Linked DNA regions of Homo sapiens: region 1 is reported to be linked to region 2. The links are microRNA targets in miRTarBase. Many come from high-throughput screens and were not tested one by one. Region 2 holds a microRNA gene; the other region holds the end of a gene's coding sequence.
The links. Region 2 holds the annotated microRNA hsa-miR-4454 (GGAUCCGAGUCACGGCACCA, at 1,333-1,352, opposite strand). A microRNA usually pairs through its seed, bases 2 to 8, with sites in the 3' UTR of a target mRNA and lowers its output. Matches are read on the target gene's strand: a 7mer-m8 pairs with bases 2 to 8, a 7mer-A1 pairs with bases 2 to 7 and ends in A, and an 8mer does both.

Region 1: miRTarBase lists TMEM186 as a target of hsa-miR-4454. The part of its 3' UTR that is shown has no 7-base or 8-base seed match.

The regions. Positions count from the first base shown.
Region 1 is chr16:8,793,234-8,796,312 of GRCh38, forward strand. It overlaps TMEM186 (transmembrane protein 186), which reads right to left. Exons shown (of 2, transcript NM_015421.4): 2 at 1,947-3,079. The coding sequence ends at 2,719. Among named protein-coding and RNA genes, the nearest start is that of TMEM186, 2.9 kb to the right of the region's middle.
Region 2 is chr4:163,092,275-163,095,388 of GRCh38, forward strand. It overlaps MIR4454 (microRNA 4454), which reads right to left and starts at 1,354; the gene lies at 1,300-1,354.

The sequences.
Region 1 (3,079 bases), not on the chromosome of region 2:
CAGAAAAATTAGCTGGGCATGGTGGTGGGTGCCTGTAATCCCAGCTACTCAGGAGGCTGAGGCAGGAGAATCGCTTGAACCTGAGAGGCGGAGTCTGCAGTGAGCCAAGATCACACCACTGCAACCCAGTCTGGGTGACAGAGTAAGACTCCATCTCAAATTTAAAAAAAAGGAAAAGTAACCACTGTTGACAAGAATGTAGAGAAACAGGAACCCTTGTCTGTTGCTGGTGAGAATGTAAAATGGTACAGCTGCTGTGGAAAAGTGGCAGGTCCTCAAAAATAAACAGAATTACCACAGGATCCAGTTAATCCACTTCTCAGTACGTACCCAAAACAACTGAAAGCAGGGACTCAAACAGATACTCGTATACCAGTGTTCACAGCAATAGCCAAATGTTCATTCATCAGTAGTCAAAAGGTGACGACAACTCAAATGTCCATCAACAGATGGACAAACAAAATGTGGCACACACAGAGAATACACACTGCACCCGTAAATATATTTAACCATAAAAAAGAAATAGCACTGACATATGCTACAACACGGATGCACCTTGACAACACTACACCAAGTCAAAGAAGCCAGATACAGGCCAGCCGCACTGGCTCACGCCTATAATCCCAGCACTGTGGGAGGCCGAGGTGGGTGATCACTTGAGGTCAGAGATTCCAGGTCAGCCTGGACAACATGGTGAAACCCCATCTCTACTAAAAATACAAAAATTAGCCAGGCTTGGCGTCAGGCACCTATAATCCCAGCTACTTGGGAGGCTGAGGCAGAATCATTTGAGCTGGTGAGGCGGAAGTTGCAGTGAGTGGACATCGCGCCACTGCTCTCTGGCCTGGGAAACAGAGCGAGACTTCAACTCAAAAAAAAAAAAAAAAAAGAGCCAGATACAAAGGGTCACATATTGTATGATTCCATTTATATGAAATATCCAGAACAGGTGAATCCAGAGGGACAGAAAGCAGGTTAGTGGTTGCCAAGGGCTGGAAAAAGAAGGAAATTATTGCTCAATGGGTATATTAGTTCTGTTTGGGATAATGAAAATGTTCTGGAAATAGATGGTGGTGACGGTTGTACAACATTTTTTGTTTTGTTTGTTTTTGAGATAGTCTGGCTGTCTCCCAGGCTGGAGTGCATTGGTGCAATCTCGGCTCACTGCAACCTCTGCCTCCCGGGTTCAAGCTTCTCAAGTAGCTGGGAATACAAGTGCCCACCACCATGCCCAGCTAATTTTTGTATTTTCAGTAGAGACAGGGTTTTGCCATGTTGGCCAGGCTGGTCTTGAACTCCTGACTTCAAGTGATCCACACGCCTCAGCCTCCCAAAGTGCTGGGATTACAGGCATGAGACAGTGTGCCCAGCCTGTACAACATTGTTAATATACTTAATGTCCCTGAATTGCACACTTAAAAATGATTAAAAGGATAAATTTGTTAGGTGTATCTTGGTATGGTTAAGAAAAATGGAAGGCTACACAATAAAAAAAAATATTTTTTTTTTGAGACGGAGTCTCACTCTGTCGCCCAGGCTGGAGTGCAGTGGCGTGATCTCGGCTCACTGCAAACTCCGCCTCCCAGGTTCACACCATTGTCCTGCCTCAGCCTCCCGAGTAGCTGGGACTACAGGCACCTGCCACCACGCCCAGCTAATTTTTTTGTATTTTTTAGTGGAGACACGGTTTCACCCTGTTAGCGAGGATGGCCTCGATCTCCTGACCTCGTGATCCGCCACCTTGACCTCCCAACGTGCTGGGATTACAGGTGTGAGCCACCGCCCCCAGCGATAAAACATTCTTATTGACTTTCGAGTGGCAAAATAATAAAGATCATGCCTTCCTTCCTCTTTACTGTGTTACAAATTGTATAATGAACATATATTATTAATTATGTGGGGCAATGTATATAACTGGCTTAAGTTTATAAAATAACGTACCAGCATCCGGTGCATTTGGCTTTATTACACTGCAGGGCCATCCAAAGCAAGAGCCTCTAGACCTCTGGGTGGTGAACAAATCTCAACTGGGGTTTCGTGCCTACCTGGACGACATCTGCTCGTCAATGTGTAGTTAACATCCTGACAGACCCTTCTGCCGCTGGATATGTGAGGGGCACAGCACAGGGCTCTGGAAGTCCCTGCTGACTGCTCGAAGCCTTTCTCCCTGCTAAAACCTCTGACCAAATGCTTAATAATATCTGCTGTAGGCTGTTGAGTCTGCCACACGTTTGACATTTATTGTTTATTCCCACACCCATCCCATGAAACAAGCAGGACTTTCCATTTTACAGATGTGAAAACCAAGATTCAAAGAGACTCAATAACCTGCTCCAGGACAAATGACAGAACTGAGACTTCTGACTCCAAATCTTACGCTCCCCCGCCACACCTCTTTGCCTTTCTCTTTCACACCAATGGACTCTATGGGTGACCTTGGCATAGGTTCTTCTAAGAACTGGCTCTTAACAAAAACTTCTGGCCATTATCTGACTGAATGTCACAAACAAGTGCTGTAAGAACTTGCTTAGAGCCTTTTTCCTAAACCTGTACACCAGCTCTTGCCTTGTGAATTTATTCACCACAAAACACATGTTCCCAGGGGCCCAGGCAAAGTCTCCAAGTACCCAGTCCCCTTTCTTCAGCCTTGCCCACACCCTCAGCCTTCCTGTTAATCCAGGCGACCCAGGGTTACCCAGAGGTCCAGGTCCCAGTTGTTCACTTGAGCATCTGATGTACCCCAAACACCTGTGTGAAACGCTCTCTGTCCAGGATGCGTCCATAGCGCAGGGTGACGTAGAAGGTCTGTTTCCCACTGTACCGCTGGATACGCACAAACATCTCCTGAGGCCGGTCCTTGGTTTCTGTCAGGGGAATCACATCTGCCATGGGACAGTATGTGTCCTGCCGCCAGCCCCAGAAGTTCAGATGGGCCACCCGCAGCATGGTGCCAGACTCATTCAGATACAGGATACCAACCAGTCTCCGTAAGAAATAGCTCATCCAGCACAGCATGGTCAGGGCAAAGCCCGATATCCCACTCATGAGGCACACGGTGTTGAGAGTGAGGAGGCCCTGG
Region 2 (3,114 bases):
GATCAAAGTGGGTGTCATTACAAAGGCAAAACTACAGAAACTTCTCTTCTCATTGATGCATTACTTTCATTTTTATTTACTACAGTTTATCTTTGTTTTAACAGGGTGAAAGGAAAACAAACGGTAAAATATTTGGCTGAAACTGAAGTTCATTGTGAATTTAAGGATGAACTTCACACTTAAAGTATAAGGCCCATGTATAAAAATGTATAAATATGCTACCAGTTTCCATTTTTAAAGATTAATTGAAAAAGATTTACTAAAGATGTAACGATTGTGAGTTTTCCTAGAATCAAGCTGAATATAACCAAAATAATGCTGTGATTTCATAGTCATGCTTTTACACTACTCTCTGTTTTAGTAGATACTGTAGCCTATTCTGAGTGCTATTTTTTTCTTTTTGTCAGCCTGGAAGATTCCTACTTAGTCTTTAAGCTACAGCATAAGTGTCACTTCCTCTGTGTTGCCCTTTCCCTGTTCTCTCCTTTAGTATCTACTGTGCCCCATAATTATTTATACGAAGGAACCTATATCATTGAATGGAAATCATTCATTTTTTTCTCTGTCATCCCTGATAAACTATCAGATCCTTAAGAGTATAGTTCTGAGTTTAGTCATTCGTATGTCTCCAAAACTTAAAACAATGTCCTGATCATGGGTGCTCAATAAATACTTATAGAGTAAATAAAGAAAAATATAAGTCTTTTTCTTATGCTTCTGATTCATCAACTTGAACCAGAAATGATAAGGCAGTTAAAGGGAGCTTATCGTAAGGGATATCATCTCTTTAAAGGGCCAGGTTGGGGGGAAATTCCAATAACCAGAACGTCTCATAGATAGAGAGCTCATGAAATTTGAAAATTGATGCCAGTATCAAAATGTCAGGAATACTGATTGTCAGGCCTCTGAGCCCAAGCCAAGCCATCGCATCCCCTGTGACTTGCACATATACATCCAGATGGCCTGAAGTAACTGAAGATCCACAAAAGAAGTAAAAATAGCCTTAACTGATGACATTCCACCATTGTGATTTGTTCCTGCCCCACTCTAACTAATCAATGTACTTTGTAATCTCCCCCACCGTTAAGAAGGTTCTTTGTAATTCTCCCCACCCTTGAGAATGTACTTTGTGAGATCCACCCCTGCCCGCAAAACATTGCTCTTAACTTCATCGCCTATCCATCCCAAAACCTATAAGAACTAATAATAATCCACCACTCTTTGCTGACTCTCTTTTCGGACTCAGCCCACCTGCACCCAGGTGAAATAAACAGCTTTATTGTTCACACAAAGCCTGTTTGGTGGTCTCTTCACACGGACACGCATGAAATTTGGTGCCGTGACTCGGATCCGGGGACCTCCCTTGGGAGATCAATCCCCCGTCCTCCTGCTCTTTGCTCCATGAGAAAGATCCACCTACGACCTCAGGTCCTCAGACCGACCAGCCCAAGAAACATCTCACCAATTTCAAATCTGGTAAGCGGCCTCCTTTTACTCTCTTCTCCAACTTCCCTCACTATCCCTCAACCTCTTTCTCCTTTCAATCTTGGCGCTACACTTCAATCTCTCCCTTCTCTTAATTTCAATTCCTTTCATTTTTTGGTAGAGACAAAAGAGACACATTTTATCCGTGGACCCAAAACTCTGGCGTGGGTGATGGAATGGGAAGGCAGCCTTCCCTTGGTGTTTAATCATTGCAGGGATGCCTCTCTGATTATACACCCACGTTTCAAGGGTGTCAGACCACGCAGGGAGGCCTGCCTTGGTCCTTCACCCTTAGCGGCAAGTCCCGCTTTCCTGGGGCAGGGGCAAGTACCTCAACCCCTTCTCTCCTTGTCTCTACCCCTTCTCTGCTTTCCTGGGGCAGGGTCAAGTACCCCAACCCCTTCTCTCCTTGTCTCTACCCCTTCTCCTTCACCCTTAGCAGCAAGTCCCGCTTTCCTGGGGCAGGGGCAAGTACCCCTCAACCCCTTCTCCTTCACCCTTAGTGGCAAGTCCCGCTTTTCTAGGGGGCAAGAACCCCCAAACCCCTTCCCTCTGTGTCTCTACGCTCTCTTTTCTCTGGGTTTGCTTCCTTCACTATGGGCAACCTTCCACCCTCCATTCCTCCTTGTTCTCCCTTAGCCTGTGTGCTCAAGAATTTAAAACCTCTTCAACTTACACCTGACCTAAAACCTAAACGCCTTATTTTCTTCTGCAACACTGCTTGGCCCCAATACAAACTCGACAGTAGTTCCAAATAGCTGGAAAATGGCACTTTCAATTTTTCCATCCTACAAGATCTAAATAATTCTTGTCGTAAAAGGGGCAAATGGTCTGAGGTGCCTGACGTCCAGGCATTCTTTTACACATCAGTCCCTTCCTAGTCTCTGTGCCCAGTGCAACTCCTCCCAAATCTTCCTTCTTTCCCTCCCGCCTGTCCCCTCAGTCCCAACCCCAAGCGTCGCTGAGTCTTTCTAATCTTCCTTTTCTACAGACCCATCTGACCTCTCCCCTCCTCGCCAGCCCAAGCTAGGTCCCAATTCTTCCTCAGCCTCCACTCCTCCACCCTGTAATCTTTTTATCGCCTCCCCTCCTCACACCTGGTCTGGCTTACAGTTTCGTTCTGTGACTAGCCCTCCCCTACCTGCCCAGCAATTTATTCTTAAAAAGGTGGCTGGAGCTAAAGGCATAGTCAAGGTTAATGCTCCTTTTTCTTTATCCCAAATCAGATAGCGTTTAGGCTTTTTCATCAAATATAAAAACCCAGCCCAGTTCATGGCTCGTTCGGCAGCAACCCTGAGACGCTTTACAGCCCTAGACCCTAAAAGGTCAAAAGGCCATCTTATTCTCAATATACATTTTATTACCCAATCTGCTCCCGACATTAAATAAAACTCCAAAAATTAAATTCCGGCCCTCAAACCCCACAACAGGATTTAATTAACCTTGCCTACAAGGTGTACAATAATAGAAAAAAGTTGCAATTCCTTGCCTCCACTGTGAGACAAACCCCAGCCACATCTCCAGCACACAAGAACTTCCAAACGCCTGAACCACAGCGGCCAGGTGTTCCTCCAGAACCTCCTCCCCCAGGAGCTTGCTACAAGTGCCAGAAATCTGACCACCAGGCCA